Homo sapiens: one gene and its partners. The protein of the gene in region 1 purifies or fractionates together with the protein of each later gene. This does not show direct contact. Each region holds a gene or a part of one and is shown in the gene's direction. Other genes may lie near its edges.

Region 1 (3,915 bases):
CAAAACTCCATCTCAAAAAAAAAAAAAAAAAAAGGATTCTTATTATTTTTTTATTTTGGTTCTGGTTAGAAAAGACAGGCTTTCCAACACTAAGATGGATTGTAAGGGCTATTTTATGCAGCTGTTCTGGGCATCCCCTAATGACAGAGTAAATTAGACAGATACAAATTTCATTCAGTGGACTTTTTGTTTGACTCTAGGCATCTTCTATCAATGGTAAAGCTTAGAAGATAGAAAATACTACTGTGATTCCTAGATGTATTTTTTAACATAACTTTTAATTTTTAATTAAAATATAAACTAAATGCTATCTATTTTAATAAGCAATTACATATATACTGTTTATATATTTTTAAAATAATGTTGATGACATAATTATTATAATTATCCTATAGTAAAATTTCACATTATTGAGTGATTACTAGTACTGGATACTGTGTGAACTTAATATTTTATTGATTTTCACACAATTTAATTACCTCTGTTTTCTTTTCCTTCTTTCCCTCTTTCTTTCCTCTTTTGACATTTATTTATGTATTTATGTATTTATGTATTTATTTATTTATTTAAGACAGGGGCCTCACTCCGTTGCCTGGGCTAGAATGCAATGGCATGATCACAACTCACTGCAGCCTCGACCTCCCAGGCTCAAATGATCCTCCCACCTTAGCTGGTGCATGCCACCACACCTCACTCATTTTTTTTCTTACAGTCATAAACTTATTCCAAATCCATGTCTTATATTTCCAGAGGCAGGGTGTGGAGAAATGGCCAGAGGAAGCAAAGCTAGACAGGACTGAGAGCAGCCATCCTATCCAGAAAACTTCGAAGATGCAATTGGCCAACTCAAAGAATGAGGTTTACATAAATGAAAGGACCACTGTTCTAATAAGAGAGACAGACAATAAATAGGCAATGAACAAACCAGAACAGAATAGAAAATGAACACACTGGAATAGAACAGAATAAATTAGGACCCCACCTATTGTGGCCTACTGTTAAAAATAGCGATTAGAGAGTAGTTGAGAAGGTGGCACCATGCACAATAGTACTTGCACATTTAAAAATGAGTAATATTTGGTATCTTAAACTGAGATGATAAGTATCTACCATTGCCCAACTCTAATGGACTAGTAGTGGCTTTCCGCAAAATGACAAGGCACTGCCTCTGGATTCTTTAGGAAGGAATTTCACCATCACTCTTACAGTTCGCACATATGAAGGAGAGTAAAAGAGGCCAGGCACAGTGGCACATGCCTATAATCCCAGCACTTTGAAAGGCATTAGGGGGAGGGTTGCTTGAGCTCAGGAGTTCCAGACCAGTCTGGGCACATAGTGAAACTTCATCACTACAAAAAATAAAAATATTAGCTGAGAGTGGTGGCACATACCTGCAATCCCAGCTACTCATGTGGCTTAGGTGGGAGGATCCCTTGAGCCCAGGAGATCAAGGCTACAGTGAGCCATGATCGTGCCTCTGTACTCCAGCCTAGGCAACAGAGTAAGACCCTGTCTCAAAATAAAAAATAAATAAATAAATAAATAAATAAATAAATAAATAAATAGACCCCTACTTGAAGCAATCTCTTTTCCCTCATTCCATAACGTACTGTAGTGGTTAACCTTAGGCAATCAAGAGACTTGCAGTCTCTAGGCTTTAGTTTTGCCCTCTGTGAAATGGGTTATTGTAAGGATTCAATTAGTTAATATTGGTGAAATGCTTGGAGCAGTTCCTGGAACATAGTAAATTTTATATTTAAATATTGTTTAATTATTATTGTTGTATCCCAGTTAATTTTCTGAATAACTTCTCTCCCCCACGGGACAGAGAACTTCCAGAGGTAGCAGAAAAATTCTCTAAATCTTCTGTATTCCCAAGCACAGTATCTGACACATAGATATTTGCAATTAGGGGCTTATGAGTGAGTTATTGATCTTCAGTGATGCCGTGGTCTACACTGCGACTCCTCCCAACAGCCATCAAAATCTATCCAATCTTAACATGGAAAGCATACTGACATTGGTATTGGCATATATAATGTGTGGGTACCAGAGCATATCCTGCAGTCATACACATTACCACCTCTATTACGCAGATTCAAACTCTGAGCTATGAGAAGTTAGATGCTTCACCTGTGATTGCACAGCAAGCTGGAGGGAGTCACAGGACAGTCAGTCCTCTGCATCTTTGTATTCCGCAACTACAGATTCAACCAACTGCATATCAAAAATATTTTAAAAAATAGAAATAAAATATAATGACACGACAACAAAAAAAAGTACAAATTTTAAAACACAGTATAACAACTATTTGCATTGCAATTGCATTGTATTAGGTGTTACAAGTAATCTAGAGATGGTTTAAAGTACATGGGAGAATGTGTATAGGTTACATGCAAATACTACTCCATTTTATATCGGGGCTTGAGCATCCATGGGTGTAGGTATCACTGTTGGGGAGGGGAATATTATGGACCTAATCCCTGCAGATACCAAAGAACATCTATAAATACATTTAGAGAAATGCATTTTGAAAATAAGCTGTTTAATCCCTGCATGTTTAGGAATGTGTTTGGAGACTTTAACAAGATAAAAAGAACTCAGGACAATTAGAAGTTACTTTTGCTAGGCACCCCCAGTGTTTCAAAAATTGGCCTTACAAGTTTTAAAGTTACAAAGAAAAGCCTAAATTGCTTTAGAATTTATCTATGGATCTTATTGGATCCCATCTTGTTCTCTTTCCCCTGAAATCACCCTCAGATTCTTCCTGAAATCTGTGATGCATACCCACAGCTATAAATATTTTTTAATATGCCACTTGATTTTTAAGAAGCTTAAAATTGCAAAGTATTAGCATTTAGTCTTTACCTGGAAGTCATTCAAGCTAATATATAGTTTTCTCTGTTTTCCCTCCATCCTCTTTAAAAAACCTTCCTCCTACCCAATCCAATCACAGGAGTTCTGGAGAAGGAACGAGCCAGACGCCTCATTCACAACTACAATCTCATTTACAACCTGTCCCTGAGCCCTCAGAAAATCGACCAGGCCTTGCGCAGATTCCGTTCGGGAGAAAATATGCTCTTGGAGCCAGCACTGCGGTACTTAAAGGAGCTATGATAACAAGCCCATATTGTGAGAACAGATGTTTCCCTTATCTCCCTTTTTACCCAGACACATGTTTCTCCCCAGCCTAAGTGTAGTGGCGGAGGCATTGTCAGAGTGGAGGCCGATGCAGCTATTGTAGATGCTTTTGATTTGGACTTAGTTTCTGGCTATGATGCTCACTCATAAGCAGTTCAAAGTGATCAGAGGAAACCTAGTTTTATCTTTTGATGTGGCAAGAACCCAGCTACTTAGAATCTCCTTCTGTTTTAATAAAACTTATTATTAATATTACATGTTTGATTTTTTCCTACATTGCTAATCAAACTATGTTGTTTCAAACCCCACAATTCCACATAGTAAAAAAAACATTAAATGTTGCCACTTCCCCACAGTGCCTGGAACCTAGTAGACCTATGAACATCATTTTTGGATAGGTAAATCATCCCTTCTCCTGGTCATTATTCTAGGAAGGATTTCCATACCATAAGAAAAATAAAAGTATTACCAATACACTATCTTAATCTTAAGCAGTAGAAGAAACATTTCAAGTGAGGTTTTCTGAACAAGTCCAATATTTTCTGCAGTACAAAACTAAACAACATTACACTGTCTCCAGGGGTATTTTCCAAAAGTCCAAGATAGAAGTTTTGAGGAAGGACTCCTTGGGACAAAGCGTTTTGGGAATAGGTAACATCCTTTGCTCTGCCTGGACAGGAAAACCAGGTGGAACTTTCCATCAGCTCCCATAGTTCTTCTGTTCTTAACATCCCCCCTGACTTTGCACCACTCACATAGCACACAGTTACACAC
Region 2 (7,038 bases), on another chromosome or scaffold:
GCTAATTTTTTTTATTTTTAGTAGAGACGGGGTTTTGCCATGTTGGCCAGGCTGGTCTCGAACTCCTGACCTCAGGTGATCTGCCCATCTTGGCCTCCCAAAGTGCTGCGATTACAGGCGTGAGCCACCGCGCCCAGCCTTGTTATTATTATCCTTATTTTACAAATGAGAAGAATGAGTACCCAAATCCACATAGCCAGTAAGAGGTAGAGCCCAGCATGAAAAAGCTTTTTCTGATTCTAAGCTCTTTGTTCTACCCATCGCAAATCCTTCTTCTAGGGGTACAGATTGGGCTGGAGTTTGGGTGAATTCCCAAAACCACCTTACTAGTTGCAGGACTATTCTGCACTGAGTGAGCCTAGTAAGATGCTACATGCATCTGCAAAAAAAACGGGAAGAGGCTCTCGGTATAACTAGAAAGTGGTCTTCAGGCCCCTAAACTTTCCCTTTACTGGCACTGTCTCACGACCCGCTCCTTTCTTTGTGAATCTGTGTTCCATGCTTTCTCCATCTCCTCACCCTCCCAATCCCCAATCAAGAAGATCTGACAAATTCACCCAGAGGTCTAATGACCTATAAGCTTCATAGGGGTAGGGATTTTTGTTGGCTTTGCTCATTGCTATATCCTAAAGACATAGAAAAGTGTCTGGCAGATAGGAGATGTTCAATAAATATTTTTATGAATGGAGCGCATAGGGTGTGGGTGAGCCACAAGAGAAAGGCAATAGACAAAGTGCCAGAGAGGCAGAGGGCTAGGTGGAAAAAGCATTGAAGGCCATGAGATGGCTGTGAGAGAGAACAAAGGGGCAGAAGTGCACAGAGCTACTGTGGGGGAGGAGATAGCACCCAGGCTTAAGAAGCCAGGATTGGCAGGGAGTGAAGAGCCAGAGAGGCGAAGCTTTGGGAGATCAGAGGGCTTAAAGTTGGGAGTGGGCTAAGGAGCCCAGGGCCTGATGCTTCCCTCTTCCTCATGGGCCTCTGTTCACAGACCCCCTGGAGGGGGTGAACATCACCAGCCCCGTGCGCCTGATCCATGGCACCGTGGGGAAGTCGGCTCTGCTTTCTGTGCAGTACAGCAGTACCAGCAGCGACAGGCCTGTAGTGAAGTGGCAGCTGAAGCGGGACAAGCCAGTGACCGTGGTGCAGTCCATTGGCACAGAGGTCATCGGCACCCTGCGGCCTGACTATCGAGACCGTATCCGACTCTTTGAAAATGGCTCCCTGCTTCTCAGCGACCTGCAGCTGGCCGATGAGGGCACCTATGAGGTCGAGATCTCCATCACCGACGACACCTTCACTGGGGAGAAGACCATCAACCTTACTGTAGATGGTAAAGCGCTCTGGCAGGGAAAGAGGCAAGACTGGCAGGTGGGACTAGGGAAAGGTCTGCCCAGCGCACCAGCTAGACTGAGGGAAAACCAACCCAAAAGGCACTTGGGAGCTGAGAATGAGGCAAGTGGACATTAGAAGTTGGCAGACAGGCACAGCACAGCTAACATGTAGAGTGATTGCCATGTGCCAGAAACTATTCTAAGTGCTTTGCATATGTTGACTCATTTAATGCTTATAATAGTCTGGTGATAGTTCATATCATTATCCTAATTTTGCAGATGAGGAAAGTGAGCCACTGAAAGGTTGAATAACTTGCCCAAGGTCACACAGCTAGAAGTGATAGAGCCAAGATTTGAACCTAAACAGTTGGACCTAGGCTTAGCCCAACTGAAATATCTTCCTGGCTGGGTCAGTTTAAGACATTAAAGCCCAGGGTTCATGGCAAGGCATTTGGAAAGAGGGAATGAGGGCAACACCATGTCTGCATTGTTCAGCATTGTACCCGCCATGCCTAATTGGTGCTCCATAAATAGTCAGTGAAACGAATGAATAAGCGATGGGAAAGAACTGGACTTAGGATGTCTGAAGTCTTCTCAGCCCACAGATTGAGTTGGAAGGTAGTGTTAAAGGTGTGTTGGAAGGCAGGGAGCTAAAAAGGGGAAGGGAGACACTTCTTAGCCAATGACTTACAGGCTCCCCCATTCCTGCGGCTCAGTGCCCATTTCGAGGCCACAGGTGTTGGTGGCTTCAACCACTGTGCTGGAGCTCAGCGAGGCCTTCACCTTGAACTGCTCACATGAGAATGGCACCAAGCCCAGCTACACCTGGCTGAAGGATGGCAAGCCCCTCCTCAATGACTCGAGAATGCTCCTGTCCCCCGACCAAAAGGTGCTCACCATCACCCGCGTGCTCATGGAGGATGACGACCTGTACAGCTGCATGGTGGAGAACCCCATCAGCCAGGGCCGCAGCCTGCCTGTCAAGATCACCGTATACAGTGAGTTTCCCCGCAGGCTTTCCTTTAGTACTCAAAGCCCCAAGAGGCAGGTGACCATGAGGGACTGAGGACATCCCAAAGAAATGTCACTGGGGGGAGGGGAACAGAGATGGGCCAACTATCCATGGAGGACACCAACAGGTAGCCAGTGGGTTCTGTACAAGCTCCACCACCAGCATCAGCCAGGCATGCAGCCTGGGGCTCCCCCTCTCTTCCATCCATGGCAGGAAGTTCTGCTCACCACATCTTGCCCCTTTGAAGTCCCTCCTGCCTCTCTGCTTCTCTCTCTCCCTAGGAAGAAGCTCCCTTTACATCATCTTGTCTACAGGAGGCATCTTCCTCCTTGTGACCTTGGTGACAGTCTGTGCCTGCTGGAAACCCTCCAAAAGGTCTGGGTAACTCTCCTGAGCACCTGAGTCCTTCAATCCATCCCAAACCTAAGCCCCATTATTTTCTTAAGTCTCTTTAAATGCCTTTCCTCCCAGGGTTTTGCATCTCTTTCCGAGAGATCCATTCTTCCATTGTGTATGCACCAGCATCTTGTGCTCCAAAGCCCCCACAACCCCAGCACCAGTAACAATAGGTTTTTTCACTGGCCAACCACCTTTTTTGGGACCAGGCACTGTGGCTGTGGTTAGCCTGCTACCTTTTAAGTATGATTATCTGTAGTTTACAGATAATGACACTGAGACTCGGATTGGTTAAATGACTTGCCCACAGTCACAACGCTAGTGACAGACTCAAGGTGCAAACCTAGATGTGATTCCTTCCAAAGCTCATGAACTGTACCCAGCCCATCTTCCTGTCACAAGGCCTCTTTTATGGCCATCAGATCCCTCCCTGTGTCCCCACTGGATCTTCTACTCACATTCAATAATTCGGCTCATAGTGGGGCTGAATTGATTCACAGGAAACAGAAGAAGCTAGAAAAGCAAAACTCCCTGGAATACATGGATCAGAATGATGACCGCCTGAAACCAGAAGGTGAGCTCCCAGCCACCCAATCACCCATCCCATCAACAATCAGATCAGTGGGCTGCTGGGAAAAGGCAGAACTGGGCGACAAGGAAAACAGCTCTGCAGGGACCCTTCCCCCACCAACTGCACGAAGACTGCAGAGGAGGGAAAGGTTTGGCCAAGGTAGGAGCCAGGATATTCAGATATGTTGGTGGAGGTTGTGGCGGGCCATTCGGGAAGCACAGAGAGTAGGTGCCGGCTGGTGGGGAGAGTCTGTACCTGGGCCAGCCACCCGCTTCTCTCCCCTGTGCAGCAGACACCCTCCCTCGAAGTGGTGAGCAGGAACGGAAGAACCCCATGGCACTCTATATCCTGAAGGACAAGGTGAGCGGCTCTGGACTGGGTGCCCAGAAACATGCAGTGATCCCCTCCCACATGCCTGATGCTAGGGAGCCATACTATATTCCTATCCCTTTATAGCAGCAGTCCCCAACGGTTTTGGCACCAGGGACTGGTTTCAAGGAAGAAAATTTTTCCATGGATGGTGATGCGGGTGGTTTCAGGATGAAACTGTTCCACTTCAGATCATCAGGCATTGGATTCTCTTAAAGAGCGTGCAACCTAGATCCCTCGCATGCTCAATTCACAATAGGGTGTGTGCTCCTACGAGAATCGAGAATCGAATGCAGCCACGAATCTGACAGGAGGCGGAGCTCAGGCGATAATGCAAGCCATGGGGCATGTCTGTAAATACATATGAAGCTTTGCTCTCTGGCCTACCGCTCACCTCCTGCTCTGCCGCTCCCTTCCTAACAGGCTATGGACCAGTACCAGTCCTCGGCCTGGGGGTGGGGACCCCTGCTTTATAGTACTCAGAATAACCCTGTGAAATATTTGTGTCATGCACATTTTAGAGATTAGAAAAAACAAGGCTGTGAGATTAAATGACTTGCTCAGGATTAAACAAGTCAATGAGTGGCAGATCTAGGTTTCAAACCTAGGTCTTTGGACACCAGTTCTGGTGATTTCCCCAGTATTCCACAACTAACTGTCCCAGGCTGTCCACGACGGGTGGAAAGAGGAGAGTAAAGGGGAAAAGCACTCAAATCATCGCATTTCAACATTTACTTAACACCTATTATGTGCTAGGAGGCCCCATGCTCAGTGTGGAATATCGCCAGGAAAACCAGACCTGTCTGCAGCCTTCCAGGAGGTGGGCGTGCAGAGGGAAACTAGGTCCCTCCCCTCGGAATTCCAGCAAGCTCTAACACCAGGCGCGCTCCCAGGCTGGGCTGACTGTCCCCTGACCCCTGCGGCGCGTGTCCTTGCAGGACTCCCCGGAGACCGAGGAGAACCCGGCCCCGGAGCCTCGAAGCGCGACGGAGCCCGGCCCGCCCGGCTACTCCGTGTCTCCCGCCGTGCCCGGCCGCTCGCCGGGGCTGCCCATCCGCTCTGCCCGCCGCTACCCGCGCTCCCCAGCGCGCTCCCCAGCCACCGGCCGGACACACTCGTCGCCGCCCAGGGCCCCGAGCTCGCCCGGCCGCTCGCGCAGCGCCTCGCGCACACTGCGGACTGCGGGCGTGCACATAATCCGCGAGCAAGACGAGGCCGGCCCGGTGGAGATCAGCGCCTGAGCCGCCTCGGGATCCCCTGAGAGGCGCCCGCGGTCTGCGGCCAGTGGCCCGGGGGAAAGCTGGGGCTGGGAAGCCCGGGCGCGGCGCGCTGGGGACGAGGGGAGGTCCCGGGGGGGCGCTGGTGTCTCGGGTGTGAACGTGTATGAGCATGCGCAGACGGAGGCGGGTGCGCGGAGGCGGCAGTGTTGATATGGTGAAACCGGGTCGCATTTGCTTCCGGTTTACTGGCTGTGTCCTCACTTGGTATAGGTTGTGCCCTCTTAGGACCACATAGATTATTACATTTCTGGCCCAATACCCAAAAGGGTTTTATGGAAACTAACATCAGTAACCTAACCCCCGTGACTATCCTGTGCTCTTCCTAGGGAGCTGTGTTGTTTCCCACCCACCACCCTTCCCTCTGAACAAATGCCTGAGTGCTGGGGCACTTTTTTTTTTTTTTTTTTTTTTTTTTTTTTTGCAAGTTCAGATTAGAGAGGCCACTTTCCCAGAATCCACAGCTGCACTAAGCTAAGGAGAAGCCAGATGCCGGTTACTGGGTGTGCAGGGGCTGTTCTGAGCTGGGGGGATCATTGTGAAGGCCTTCTTCCCTGGGCACCTGGTACCTGGGGACCTACAAGGTGGTGAGGGAAGGGTACGAGTACATTCCTTTTCCCTCTGACCTGGGCGCTAGCAAGGGCAAAGAACCCGAGCCTGCCAGCTTGGCCTCCTCCCACAGCCTCCCTCGGAGGCATGCCATGCCAAGCACTCTTTCTGTCTCTGTTCATGAATAAAAGAGATGGATGGGCTTATTCTTATAGAGAAGTGAATTTCACTTACTCCCCTGGCCCGAAAACTAGACCAAATGAGGAACTGTTTTAGCTCATCAAACTCATATATTCCTCCTGGCTTCCTTACAAAACAAGCCTTTCAAACAATCATTGTCCTCAGGAAAGTTGTTGAGCTTCCTCCAGCTGTGAGAATAAGTCCTAATCTCCAGAGAAATGGTGGGGGGAGGAGGAGGCTTATTGCTTCCCAGCATTTGGGGGGAACATGATCCAACCCCTGGCCTCCTGCCACCCATCTGCCCTGCTCCCACATGCTCAGGTCCCAGGGCACAGAAAAAGGGCAGACTCCCTAATCACACTAACATCAAAATAAAGAGGCTGGGCCGCTGTGTAGCCAGGACATGCCCATGCCACCGCCTATTGAACAGTTCATAGGAGTGGCAGTAATCTACTGTGTGAGGAGAGAGGGCAATTAAAAAGCTGAAAGAGAAGGAGGCCCTCTGTGTATTCCATTCCCTCCTCCTTAATGCCTCCAAGGGTCCTTGCATCCCTAGTCTCCTAAACTCCAGCTCTGATTCGCCATCAACCCATGGAGCAATTCCAAGGCCCCAGTTACCCATCACCTCCACACCAGGTCAAGTTTTGTCTCAGCCCCAAAGGCACTGACATTTCTAGTTTGCCCCCTCTGCCCTGAACCCCACAGCATGCCTGTCTCAGCTCCCTGTCCCTCGGCACTTCCCCAGGCTCATTTGAGCAGGTGTGCCTTCGCAGCTCCCCTAAACTTCCCAGGTGCCTCATCCATAATGAGATAATGCATGTAGGGGAAAAGTTTCTCAAGAAGGTGGAAGAGGCAGCAGGACTTGGATAAGGAGTACCTGCTGGTCAGCCTTGAGATGCACAGGTGAAGGTTAGGGTGAGATGAGAACATGCCATACCCTGGTGCTGAATCCCTGAGGGGCCAGCTTGCCAGGCTTAAGCCAAATCTGCCTTAAATTGGGGGTGGGGAGGGGTAAGTAAGGAAGTGGGGTTTGTTTTTGTGTTGTTTTCATCTTCATCTTTGTATTACTAGCATCCAGCAGAGTGCCTAGCACATACTGGATGCTCAATAAACTTTTGATGAAATGAAATGACAACTTTATTCCACATAAACAAGGGTAACAAAACAAGCTGCTTAAATATACCAGTCATTTCTCTTCTTCTCCTTTCACCTCCTTTACCCTCTTTCCAAACCCCAAATTGTCCGTTCCAAAATCACTTACCCGTTCATTCATTTACTTATTCAGGTGTTCTTTTATTTATTCGACAAACATTTGTTTACCTACCATGGACTAGGCCCTGTGCTAGACACTGC
Region 3 (5,869 bases), on another chromosome or scaffold:
TCCACCAAGCATAACAGCTTGTTCGTTTTTGTTTTCGTTTGGCAGACTTTGGTGGGGTATTGACCTTTACTATCAGAAGAGACTGCCTTTACTGCCAATCTCTGATCCTTATGGGACAACCTTAGTGCCAGTTTTTTATTATTTTATTTTTTAAGAGAGGGTCTTGCTCTGTCACCCAGGCTGGAGTGCAGTGGCACTCACTGCAGCTTTGAACTGTTGGGCTCAAGGGATCTCCTGCCTTAGCCTTCCAAGTAGCTGGGATGACAGGGCAAACCATTGTACTTGGCCCAGTTTTTTTTTATATATATAATAAATTTTATTATGTATATTTAAGGTGTACAACACGATAATATAGGATATGCATATAGATAGTAAAAAGGTTATTATAGTGAAGCAAATTAACATATCCATCACCTCACATAGTTACTCACTTCCTTAAGGTATGGTCCCTATTCAGATTCTTAGACTTTTTAAATGGTGGTAGATGGTTTTGAGTTGGCCAAGAGCAAAGAAGTATTTATGAAACAAACCTTGAACAGTGGTGAGTCTGTGTGTAGGGTATGCACTACTGTATAATATTGGAGGAGACATTTTTCTAAACAAGCTGTCAAGGCAGCCCCTGGTTGCACCCTACTTGGCACTCCCCAACTTGCCTGTGCCCAGCACTATGATGCTAAGAGAACAGAGCAGGGTAGAATTACCCAGTCACACAGAATTTCATGTAGTTACTCATATACAGTTCTCATCAGAGCCACATGAGAGCAGCAATATCTGCTTTTTTCAGACGGAAAAATTAAGAGAGTTAATAATTGGCAGAGCTGGGAGTTAGAACCCAAGTCTCTTCACTAAATTCATTGCCTCTTCTATTGCCTTCCTAAAGAAGGACTTCCCATTTTTACTTTCTTCTTTGTACTTTTCAGATTTTTTTTACGATGAGCACAAATAATTTTTACAAAAAGGATATAATTATTTTCAAAAGACAAATATAAATTTAAAAAACAGTAGGCAGCTAGTTGAGTGCCCCCAAAGCTTCTTACCTTTATGAGATGAAGTGTCCACACATGCATAGTTTGACAGCACATGGGCACATATGATTAGGAATATGAGTGAGTGGGGCTGGCATCAGGGAAGGCCCCAGTGGGCTGAGATTTTGTGGTAGAGGGAAGGCAGGCTCCTAAATTGGACTTGAACTGGAACCAGGAGTGTAAGAATCCCACAGCAGGGAGGCACTCTAACAAGGGTTGAGAGGCAGGGAGGGTGGGCCTTTTTGACTGACTCTCGTGCCTGGCGGTCTGAGAAACAAGTAGAGGGTCTGGGGAGCGGACGAGCAGGCATCAGGAGGCGCCTAGCCCCACAGGGCCCTTGGTGGGTGCCAGGTTCACGCACACTCATTGAATGAGCAACCTCTCCCGGGAGCAGGTGGCTGCAGTCCGAGAAGGGATGTCCTGGATTGTTCCTGTGCCGCTGCTGTCCCTCCTCACAGCAAAACAACTGGAGCAGATGGTGTGTGGGATGCCCGAGATCTCTGTGGAAGTCTTGAAGAAAGTGGTGCGGTACCGTGAGGTGGATGAGCAGCATCAGCTGGTGCAGTGGTTCTGGCACACGCTGGAAGAGTTCTCCAATGAGGAGCGGGTGCTTTTCATGAGGTTTGTGTCAGGAAGATCTCGACTACCAGCCAACACTGCTGACATTTCTCAGAGATTTCAAATCATGAAGGTTGATAGGGTAAGTAAGCTATTCTTTTTTCCTTTGTAATGTCTGCCTTATTGCTTCATTGTTGTTTTTGTTGAGACAGGGTCTCACTCTGTGGCCCAGGCTGGAGTGCAGTGGCATGATTTTAGCTTACTGCAACCTCCGCTTCCTAGCTTCAAGCAGTTCTCCTGCCTCAGCCTCCGCAGTAGCTGGGACTACAGGTGCGTGCCACCACGCCTGGCTAATTTTTTTGTATATTTTGGTAGAGACGGGGATTCACCATGTTGGCCAGGCTGGTCTTGAACTACTGACCTCAGGTGATCTGGTCACGTTGGCCTCCCAAAGTGCTGGGATTACAGGCGTGAGCCAACACGCCTGGCCCTCTGCGCCTTGTTGCTTTTATGTTGGGGAAAACAAACTATGACCCTCAAGTAGGCCTGCCGATTCATGCTTATTAATACTTAGAATTTCCAGATTAATGAAAAAAATCAAGCAGTAAAATTTGTTTAGAAATATCATTTAGCTTCAGTGGGAAGAGTCCTAAGTGGATGAAGAGAGCATACTACAACCAACAACCTTCCCTAAATCTTCCAGCATCTTCCTGAGTTAAAGCTGAACTTGGCAGAAGGATCATCATACTGCCTCTTCCTGTGCTGAGGCATGGCCTTGTTTGTTTTCATGAAAATATTAACCATTAACTGGTGGGTGTGCCCCAGAAGGAACCCAAAGATGTGGGGAGCAACGATAACCTCTGTGCCCACTTGTGTTGTGTGCCTTGTGGAGCAGGCAGGGCTGCATCTCTGCCATCTGATGAAAGGCCCCAGCTGCAGAGCCCCAGCCCAGCTGTGATTTTGACAGATGGCTTAGGAATAAGAGGGCTTAGAGTCTGAAAAGCACACTGCTGCCAGAGTCATCTTTCTTAAGCACCTGTCTGACCATGTCACTCTCCTCCTTTTAGACCTTTCAGAGACCCCCTTTGTTGACTCCGAAATAAATGCCAATGACCTTAGCTGCCTTAAACACTTCCACAGTCTGGCCTCTGCCCCACTTTCTGATGTGACGTCTTGATACTTCTCATGTTCTGGTCATAATGGGCTGCTTGCCTTTCTCCCCAGTAGACCAGGCTGTTTTTAAAATTCTGTGCTTTTATGTAACCTGTTCCCTCTGCTTTAGTAAGTCCTTCTTCACACCCCTTTCCTTCTATCTCTGGCAAGCACTTACTCATCCTATAAGCCCAATGCCAGTCATCTCCTCCAAGAACCCCTCCTAGATGCTTTCCAGGAGTGCCCCTACCATTGCTGAAGGCAGACCTAGCCAGACTCCTTCTCTCCACCTCCTGAACACTGGGTACAGCCCTCAAACCCAGAACTTACTGCATTCAGTTAGGAGTGCCTCTCCTCCCTCTGTCTCCATCCCCACTCTTCACAAGCCCTCTCTCCCACATGAGCTGGGCAGTTCTCTGAGCAGGGCCCATGATGTTTGTTCAGAAAACAGTAAGGGAAGTGGGGCCTCTTCACACACAGGCCCTTCCTGCCAGTTTAAGTGTCTGGCTTTCTGGTGTAGCCAAAGCTATTCCTCCCTGTGCTGCCTCCTGAGGCTGCAGGCTGCTGCTCTGCTCCTGGGCTAGGCTTGCTGGAGAAGCCACGTGCAGGAAGGATTATAAAAGAGCCTTTCCATAAATTTTCTGCATGACTTGCCAAGAACTGTAAGTTGTAAATCTGTTTTGTTGCTTCAGAGAGAAGTAGGAAGGAGGAAATGGCTCATTTCTACTCAGCTCTGGAAACAACCCTTGCCTTATATCTGTCCTGGGCTACTCCTGCCGTTCTAGGAGTTAATCCACCACTAATCTCCGGTCTCAGGGTTGTCAGCATCAGTAACTGACTACCGTGGTCGGTTCCTCTGTGGCTTTTAGATCATTTCTACAGTACTCACATTTAGGTCATCAGAGCCACCTAGTGGCACCTCCCTTCCTTGCTGCTTTCAGTTTTTCTGCGTTGAGCTGTGTCATCACTGGCTCTGGTGCATTTGGGCTGCTGGGCCATCCACCTCCCATAGCAGGACATGTGGCTTACCTAGGTGTGGGCTCTGGGGAGGAGGGCTGATTTCAAGAGGAGGTTGAGTGAGAGAAGACAGGTTCTTTTTTTTTTTTTTAAGCAAACGTTTTAAAAATTTATAAAAACACTATAATGCCATTACTATTATTACAAATTGTTTAGAAAATAGTTATGTTTGCAAGGAGGGATAGGGAACGTATATAATCCTGTCTCTCCAGTAGTAGCTATTTTTACCTTTGTGAAATTCCTCATAGTCTTTGCCTCAATTGTACAAATTTTTATATGATGTATCTAGAATTTTTTCTGCCTTTAACCTCCTAATGTATCCTGAACACCTTTCTGTTTTGCTGCCAGTCATCATAATTATCATTTTAAATGATGCATCACCGTCAGTTGAATGGATGGACTGGAGTTTAATTGACTGCCCCTTCCTTATGTGAGCTGTGCGAGGCAGCCATGGCGCCTGCAAAGGAGGCAGAATGCACATGAGGACAGGGAGAGGAGAGGGGGCAAAGAGGCTCCCATGGCCAGCTGCACCTCACAGTCGTTCTTTCCATTCTACCTGCTCTGTGGGGGCATCCCTGCAGCTGGCTTCCAGTCTGCACCCTCTTGGTGGATGGGTATGAAGGACAGGTGCCCTCTTACTACACTCTCATCCTGTGCCAGGCGCTGTGCGTAGTGTATTCTCTCAAGCAATCCTGCCAGTCAGAGCTTCTCCTCACTTTACACACACAGGCACTGGAGGAGGTGAGGACAAGAAGGAACATCTTCACCCAGAGCCTCGAGGGCCACGGGGCAGTAGGGCCTCAGCTCATTCTATCTGGCCCAGTCTCTGTGTCCACTTGACTTAACCATGTGGCCATGTTAATTCCATCTTGAAGGCAGGGAGAGGTCATGGGCAGCCCCACTCCCCCTTATGGCACTCTGATGTCCCCAGTCACGGCTCTGGGTCTCTCTCCACAGCCTTACGACAGTCTGCCTACCTCACAGACCTGCTTCTTCCAGCTGAGGCTGCCCCCGTACTCCAGCCAGCTGGTCATGGCCGAGCGCCTGCGCTATGCCATCAACAACTGCCGCTCAATCGACATGGACAACTACATGCTCTCGAGAAACGTGGACAACGCCGAGGGCTCCGACACTGACTACTGACCGTGCGGGTGCTCTCACCCTCCCTTCTCTCCCTCAATAATGCTCACTTCTGATTTGATGTTGATATACTTTTATGGTAACTACATAGATGTTATAAGAACATAAACCAACATTATAAACAATGGCCACATTTAGTTACTCTAAATGTAACAAAGAAATTAGATGTTTTTATTTTTCTGTGATTGTACAAAAACAACAAAAACGAAGTGCTCTCAGTCAGGTTTTTCCCTCCATATTTTTGGTCACTTTTGATAAGTTTGCATGAAACCATTTTGGTGCATTTTTAGTTGGGAATGGTACATTTTTGTAAATCCACCCAGTGAACATGAAATTGTACATTGTGTATAATTGTTCATTAGAAAGGACAGTTTTACATGAATATTCATATATTTATTTTGTTTTAATTTGAATTGCCTGTTCAGGGTTCCTTATGCAGAGAAATAAAGCAGATTCAGGAATTGGAGCGTGGCTCTTGGTATTGCTTCCTGCGGAGCTTCTGACTAGGGGTTACCATCGAGGCAGACATTAGCCCAGAACAGAATGAGCTTCCAGGCTGGTCTTGCTCTGATGGCTTTTTGACCCATTCAGAAACATTTCTTTACATTGAGGGTGGGCTTCACTTGGAAATAACGTATCAGAGAACCGTGTGGTTCTAGGAGATCCCTCTGGGTTGGAAGCCCCTATTTTCCATTGTTCTTCTGTCATCCTGGGTCTCTCTGACTTTGTTCCCTCAGCTGCTCCGCCCCTCTCAGTACCACGCATCCTTCTCTGGACAGCCCCAGCTACCTCATGTGGAGGGCGACTCTACCAGACAAGGAGGAAGAGGACCACAGTAATGCCATCTGGCCCTTCCTATGAAGAACCTACAAAGACAAAATGAGCACGTGATGGAATTAAAGAACAGGGTAGTTTACAACATGTCTCAGTGGGGAGGGCAGCCAAGTGGAAGGTGTTACAGAAAGGCCAGCAACTGC
Region 4 (6,892 bases), on another chromosome or scaffold:
CACCATGTTGGCCAGACTGGTCTCGAACTCCTGACCTCAAGTGATCTGCCGTCTTGGCCTCCCAAAGTGCTAGGATTAGAGGTGTGAGCCATAGCACCTGGCCCCTGATGCCTTTTAAATTATAAGATAGGGCCAGGCAGGCGGAAGTTGCAGTGAGCCAAGGTGGCACCACTACTGCACTCCATCCTGGGCAACAAGAGTGTAACTCCACCTCAAAAAAAAAAAAAAAAAAAAAAAAAGGGTATCAGGCCAACAGGGACCAGATGTTTCCTCATCAGTAGATACTGCACCCACCCAGATAAAGACATAAACAAGACACTCTTACTATCAGTCCTTACCAGAGTACTCTATGGCCATGAAAAGAGCAGAACACCACCAGGTCAAAGTGGCCGTTTTACAGACAGTCTTGCTGTCACTTGTGAGAAGCCCTCCACATCTGCTGCTGCAGGCTCTGCCCACATCAGAGATGCTTCCTTGCCAGATTCTCCTTTTCGTTGAACTGGTTAACTTTTTTTCCTCTCCTCTTTCTCTTGATGTGGAATGTTTATAACATTTATGCAGTGGTCAAGTATACTATTATGTATGGTTTGTAATACTGACTGACTTAAGGAGAGACTTGAGCCTGTGTGCCCACAGCTGTGACTGCCAAGTGAATGGGAAGCACTAAGAATTGCCTCCTCGGGATCTCTAGTAGTATACATAACATGCTCCAGAGGGCATGGATTTGTCAGACTTTTTTTTTAAATAGGGTTTTTAAGAACAGTTTTAGATTTAGAGTAATTGAGAAGATAGTACATGGAGATCCCACATACCACATGTGTGGCTTCCCCTCTTATTAACATCTTACCTTAGTGTGCTACATATGTTATATATATATATATTTTTTTTGAGACAGAGTCTCGCTGCGACGCCCAGGCTAGAGTGCAATGGTGCAATCTTGGCTCACTGCAACCTCTGCTTCCCAGTTTCAAGCGATTCTTCTGCCTCAGCCTCTCGAGTAGCTGGGACTACAGGTACGTGCCATCATGCCCAGCTAATTTTTGAGTGAAAGCCAGTGCACCTGGCCCATTTGTTATGATTAATGAACCAATATTGAGACACAAGTAACTGAAGTCCACACTTTGACAGTTTCCTTAGGTTTGCCTCATGTCCCTAATGTGGTATCCATCAGAACACCCCATTACATTGAGTTATGTGTCTTTAGGCTCCTTCTCAGACTTTCCTCGTTTTTGATGACCTTGACAGTTTCGAAGAGTACTGGGCAGATATTTTGAAGAATGTCCCTCAATTAAAATGTGTCTATTATCTCCTGGTTAGACTGGGACTGCAGGTTACAGAAAGGAAGCATCTAGGGGTGAAGTGCCACTGTCACCCCATCACATCAGGGACACACACTGTCACCTCGACTATAACTGTGAGGCTGACCTGCGTCACTTGGCTGAGGTGGAGTCTGCCAGTTTTCTCCACAATAAAGTGGCTCTTTCCCTCCTTTTCTTTATTGCACTCTTTGGGAGGAAGTGGCTATGTGTGGTCTACACTTAAGGAGAGGGGAGTTACGTTTCCCTCCTTGAGGGTGAGTATCTACAAAATTTATCTGGGCAGCTTTTTTTTTTTTTTTTTTTTGAGTTAGGGTCTCAGTCTGTCACCCAGGTTGGAGTGCAGTGGTTGCCTGGCCTTGACAGCTTTTTAATAGTTTAAAATGAATTGAGGCTGGGCGAGGTTGCTCATGCCTGTAACTCCAGCACTTTGAGAGGCCAAGGCAGGTGGATCACTTGAGCCCAGGAGTTCAAGACCAGCCTGGGCAACACAGTGAGACCCTGTGTCTACTAAAAATACAAAAATTAGCTGGGCATGGTGGTGTGCCTGTAATTCCAGCTGCTCAGGAGGCTGACATGGAGAATCACCTGAGCCCGGGGAAGTTGAGGCTGCAATGAGCGGTGGTCTCACCACTGCACTCTAGCCTGTGTGACAGACTGAGACCCTGCCTATAAAAAAGAAAAGAAAAAAGAACTGAAATAAGACCCAAGTCCAACATTAGCAGAACCTCTCTAGGATGTCCACAGAAACGACTCTGGGGTTCTGAGGAACACAGTCTAGGCAAACCTGGGCACATCCCCTCAGTCCCACAGTTGTAAATGTATTGTAACACGTAACAGTTGTGAGATTCAGGCGCGGTCTGGGTCTCTGTTCCTGGAAAGTGTGATCCTGTGGGTGCAGCCCCTGCTCGCTTGGCTGTGTTGCCTGCCTGGCCCCTGCTCTAATGAGCCCACTGCCCAGAGTTTGCTCAAACCACCCAATTCCGAGTCTGGGAACCAGGAGACCGCTGGACACCCCGCTCACCACACAGAAGACTGTGGCCTGAGTCAGGAGAAGGAAGTTTCTGGCGGTCGAGCTTCCACGGCTTCCTGAGGGAGGTTGCAGGGAGCCGAGATCGCGCCATTGCGCTATAGCCTGGGCGTCGCAGCGAGACTGTCTCAAAAAAAGAAAAAAAATTCTGAGCGAGATTCCAGGGCTTCCTGAGGGCGCGTTTAAGTTGCAGTTGCTGAGGAGGCTGCAAGGTGAGCTTGCGTCAGCGAGGAGCCACTCCAGCACGCTCGGGAAGGGCATCGTTACTGCTGCAAACAAGCACACGGCCCTCCACGACGAACCTTTTGCAAGTGAAGGCGCACGAACAGGCCCGGAGGACTACAAAGAAACCCAGAAACCAGACTTGGACACATGAAATAAAGGGGTTAGCTGAAGGAATACTCCACAGTTAAGGACGGCCTGCGCGAGGTCACCGGCCCTGTCTTGGTTTTTTGCCACTTCGCTCCAGTTAGTTTCCCAAGTTCCACCTACGCGCGCGCCAGCTGAGAAAACGCCCACCCCGGCGGTCCCGCCACAGGTCACAGGCGGTGCGGACCCCGGGACTGTGTCCGGGCTTCGGTGTCCAGAGAGCTCCAAGACACCCAAACCTTCCGTGGTTTCCACCTCTGCAAGCTTATGTTCCGCTGAGCTCAAGCTGAGGGACGACGACCTCATGCGACGTCAGTTTCCCCCTGGGACCACGAACCCACGGCCCCATTTCTCTTCTGTCTACTAAAAACCTTTTCTTTTCTTTTTTTTTTGAGACCTAAGACATCAGTGAGACACACGAGCAGACACGGGCTCGGTCGGGAAAGGCGGGAGCTCCAAGCGGCGGGGCCTGCAGGTCCAGGCGGTTCGCGGGCTTTCTGACCGCATTCGGCCGAGTTCTTCTCTGAAGACCCAGGACCCCCGGCCGAGGGGGCGCATTCGGCGGGCTGGTGGCGTAGGATTTTGTTTCGGGTTCCCAGGGTCCCGGCAAGGGTGAGGGAGCCCTTGCGGATCCCCTGAGATCCACCTCAGCAGCCTCCTCCGTGGTAGGCCTCAACTTCCCGCGGCGGCCCACAGCCAACGACTAATGCCTGAGCGGGAGAAAACGGCCTGGCCCTGTCCGGGTGGTTGCTGAGCACCGTTCGGCGCCGCCCGCGCCTGCAGGGAGCCCGGCCCGCTGTCCTGGTGGACACAAAGCCCAGGGGCCGCCCGCGCGGGACCAGCAGCGCGAACTTTTTGCCGCTCGGCCAGCCTGGCAGGGGATTTTAAAATCGGCCAATCACAGCGGGCGCCAGGCCTCCGCTTTCCGCTTACTGGTCCTGCCGTAGGAGGCGGGTACGTGAGCGCACCAATCTGTGGCCGGCGAGCGTAAAGGGCGGGGCTCCGCCCAGGCTGCACCGCCCAGAGCGCGCGTGCGCGAGACCGGAAACGCAGCCCCCTGATTGGCGGCGCGTGTCGGGGGCGGGGCCGCGGCTGCGTGACAGTTGTCGCGGGGGGAGGGCGAGCCCAAGCGCGGGGGAGGGAGTGTAAATAGAGCGAAGGCTGCTCTGTGTCAGCCCCGTCACCGCCGGGCGGCCCGCGCGGAGTCTGAGGGAGATGGAAGTTGAGCAAGAGCAGCGGCGCAGAAAGGTGGAGGCCGGGAGGACGAAGGTAAACATTAGGGGCTTCTTCTCTAGCTGCTCTGGCGTGAAGTCCTAAGGGCGGCTCCGGTGCCCGCCACCGCCCCCTGCCAGGAGAGGACGCGGTCCGGCGGAAGCCGCCGCGGAGGTCTCGCTTTTTCCCGCCGGCTCCGCTGGAAGCCGCCTCCTGGCCGCCGCCATCTTGAATCCGCCGCTCTCCGCCAGGTCCCGCCCCCGCCGCGGCCACAGCCAATCAGCGGCCGGGACGCGCGGCGCCTCTCGGGCGGGCCGGGGCGGGGCTGCGCCTGCGTCGGGGGGGGTGGGGCGCGGGCTGGGCGCGGTGCACGCCGGGGCGGGGTGTGGCTGCAGGGCGGGGCTACAGGGGCGTGGCGTGGCTGCACGGAGGGGGTGGGGCGCGGCAGGCGCTGGACCCCAGGCTGGATCTTCCAGTGGCTCCCGCGTCCTCCGGGACCGGGTGGCCTGGGGCGGGCGGCCGGTATTCGGGTGGCTGCTTGGTCTAGGGCCAGTTTCCTGCGCGGCCGGGGCCGGGGGCGTGGCGCGGGTGGCCTGCAGCGCCTCCCCAGGGTGCGCCTTCGCCTCGTCCGTCGGAGATGCTTTCCCCGCGCGTTTCTCGCGGCGTTGCAGTCCTTACTGTGTGAAAGGCCCCCGCGGCGCTCCCGGCCGCCGTCTTCTTCCCGCGCCCTTGGGCTCGCGTCCTGCCCGTCCGGGCCTGGCGTACGCTGCCGGGAACCCACGCGGCGCTGGCGCCGGGCGCCTTCAAGGGACGCGCTCCCGTCTTTCTCCCGCCCCGGGTTTCTCCGTGAAAAAGCGCTCGGTTTGATGGCCACTGTCCTAGGTTTCGTGGGAATAAAGCGCGCAGAGCCCATGACTCGGGGGCAGGAGAAAGGGAGTCCCGAAAGCGCGAGGCGGAACCGCGGGAGCAGGCCGGCCTCTGCGAGGTGCGCGCCGCTCCCCCCCAGGATGTTCTGGCTGGGGTGCTGGGGAAGAGCGGGGCTCCCGGGCACGGCGGACAGGGGACGCGGGGCTAGGCCGGGGAAGGGCTGAGGCGGGCAGGAGGGGAAGGGGAGCCCGGAGCCTGCAGGGAGCTGCGAACAGGAGCAGAGCTCCCAGGAGGGTGGAGGGGGGAGGGAGGGACAAGACGCCGCCTGTAGGGCGACGCAGGCCGCAGACCAGGTCTGTGCTATATCCCGACATGGATAGGTGTGGTGGAGGAGGACATGAAAATAAACGACATGAGGTTGACTTTGAAGGAAATATTTCCTTGAGAGACCATTTTCTTGTGTAAATGGCCTTGTGTAATTTTTCTGGGTCCATGAGCTTGTGTACTTGTGTTATCATTTACACAAATGTGTGTTCCATGCGTTTGTTTTTGTGGCCACAGTTGTCTTTTGAGGGAACAGATGTCTCCCCGTGAAAGGCTGATGTGGGATCGATCGCATACCTCTTGAGTAAGACGTTAGCGGGAGATGAGGCTCGCACATAGTCTCAAACTCTCGGATTTGAGGACTGAGCAGAGCTAGGCTGTGCCTTCTGATGGGCGATGCTCTGTGGATGTCCCTGGTGCTTTGGTGAGCTGTGTCATGAAAAATAGAACATCTGATTCCATAAAGGAAGATGTGAGATTGACCTGGCTTAATTAATTTTTTGCTATTTCTGTATCTTGTCTCAGAATCTATGGCTAGGAAGTTTTGGCTGGGCTATATATTTCTTCAGTTGGGGGAAAATTGGGGCAAGAAGGGAGAGATTTAGCTTTTATATCATTTTAAAACTTAAATATGCCTTGATTAAGCTATCAATCTTTTATACAAATTTTTTTTAAAGTTTTATTTTTCTGTAAACTGCCAAGGGCTAGGAAAGCTATTCTGCCAATCAGCCGTATGGTTTTCTTTACCAGGCATAATTAGCAGTCCTCATTGTTAGACCCCTTGGATATAGATATTGATGAAGGCAGTGTTTGTGGAGAGCCATCTGTTGGCCAGGTGTGGCAGAGTAGACTGGGTCAGCCCTCGGGCCTCATGGTCCCCACCAGTCTGTTGACTTTGTGGTTCTGTTATTTTTTTCTCACTTACCTTTGCCTTTACTACTTATCTACATTTTTGCGCAGCTTGCTCACTTCCGACAGAGAAAAACAAAAGGTGACAGTTCGCATTCGGAGAAAAAGACGGCGAAGAGGAAGGGCTCGGCTGTCGATGCGTCTGTCCAGGAGGAGAGTCCGGTAACCAAGGAGGACAGCGCACTCTGTGGAGGAGGGGACATTTGCAAAAGCACATCATGTGACGACACCCCTGATGGGGCAGGAGGGGCCTTTGCAGCTCAGGTAGATTTGCTCAATGTTGTATTTGAACATTTCGCTTATCTTCTAGTGATTTCTAGTGTGATTTACTAAAGATGGTCTTTGGTCTGTTTTTGCCTTTCAAAAGTGAGGAAAGAGGGTGTTATTTTAGTTTATAAAAAGTGAGGGCCGGGTGCAGTGGCTTACGCCTGTAATCCCCGCACTTTGGGAGGCCGAGGCAGGCGGATCACCTGAGGTCAGGAGTTCCAGACCAGCCTGGCCAACATGGAGAAACCCTGTCTATACTAAAAATACAAAAATTAGCCGGACATCTGGCGCACACCTGTAATCCCAGCTACTCGGGAGGTTGAGGGAGGAGAATAGCTTCAACTTGTGAGGCAGAGGTTGCATTGAGCCGAGATCACGCCAATGCACTCCAGACTGGGTGACAGAGCGAGACTCTCTCTCAAAAAAAAAAAAACAGTGAGTAAATTTTTATGGTTTTATTCTTTTTATTTTATTTTTTATTTTTTTGAGATGGATTCTCGCTCTGTCTCCCAGGCTGGAGTGCAGTGGCGCGATCTCGGCTCACTGCAAGCTCCGCCTCCCGGGTTCATGCCATTCTCCTGCCTCAGCCTCCCAAGTA

Evidence for each region.
Region 2: the proteins of C1orf87 (region 1) and HEPACAM purify together in Homo sapiens (affinity purification with mass spectrometry; 2 studies listed by BioGRID and IntAct, with this or other methods). This does not show direct contact.
Region 3: the proteins of C1orf87 (region 1) and HERC1 purify together in Homo sapiens (affinity purification with mass spectrometry; 2 studies listed by BioGRID and IntAct, with this or other methods). This does not show direct contact.
Region 4: the proteins of C1orf87 (region 1) and PCNT purify together in Homo sapiens (affinity purification with mass spectrometry; 2 studies listed by BioGRID and IntAct, with this or other methods). This does not show direct contact.

Annotation. Positions count from the first base shown.
Region 1 is NC_000001.11:59,989,875-59,993,789, reverse strand, and holds the end of C1orf87 (uncharacterized protein C1orf87), read left to right. Parts: intron 1-2,956; coding exon 2,957-3,117; 3' UTR 3,118-3,396; downstream 3,397-3,915.
Region 2 is NC_000011.10:124,919,020-124,926,057, reverse strand, and holds the end of HEPACAM (hepatic and glial cell adhesion molecule isoform 1 precursor), read left to right. Parts: intron 1-988; coding exon 989-1,330; intron 1,331-2,047; coding exon 2,048-2,329; intron 2,330-2,624; coding exon 2,625-2,718; intron 2,719-3,239; coding exon 3,240-3,313; coding exon of another isoform or gene 3,314-3,469; intron 3,470-3,599; coding exon 3,600-3,670; intron 3,671-4,617; coding exon 4,618-4,920; 3' UTR 4,921-6,040; coding exon of another isoform or gene 6,041-6,307; 3' UTR 6,308-6,853; downstream 6,854-7,038. Other genes in the region: putative cancer susceptibility gene HEPN1 protein, read right to left, coding at 6,041-6,307. UniProt on the Homo sapiens protein: Involved in regulating cell motility and cell-matrix interactions. May inhibit cell growth through suppression of cell proliferation.
Region 3 is NC_000015.10:63,608,107-63,613,975, reverse strand, and holds the end of HERC1 (probable E3 ubiquitin-protein ligase HERC1), read left to right. Parts: intron 1-1,419; coding exon 1,420-1,725; intron 1,726-4,709; coding exon 4,710-4,895; 3' UTR 4,896-5,358; downstream 5,359-5,869. UniProt on the Homo sapiens protein: Involved in membrane trafficking via some guanine nucleotide exchange factor (GEF) activity and its ability to bind clathrin. Acts as a GEF for Arf and Rab, by exchanging bound GDP for free GTP.
Region 4 is NC_000021.9:46,320,299-46,327,190, forward strand, and holds the start of PCNT (pericentrin), read left to right. Parts: upstream 1-3,857; 5' UTR 3,858-3,930; coding exon 3,931-3,984; intron 3,985-4,368; exon of another isoform or gene 4,369-4,912; intron 4,913-5,989; coding exon of another isoform or gene 5,990-6,078; coding exon 6,079-6,291; intron 6,292-6,892. Other genes in the region: uncharacterized protein C21orf58, read right to left, coding at 2,341-2,440; uncharacterized LOC128092249, read left to right, coding at 5,990-6,193. UniProt on the Homo sapiens protein: Integral component of the filamentous matrix of the centrosome involved in the initial establishment of organized microtubule arrays in both mitosis and meiosis. Plays a role, together with DISC1, in the microtubule network formation.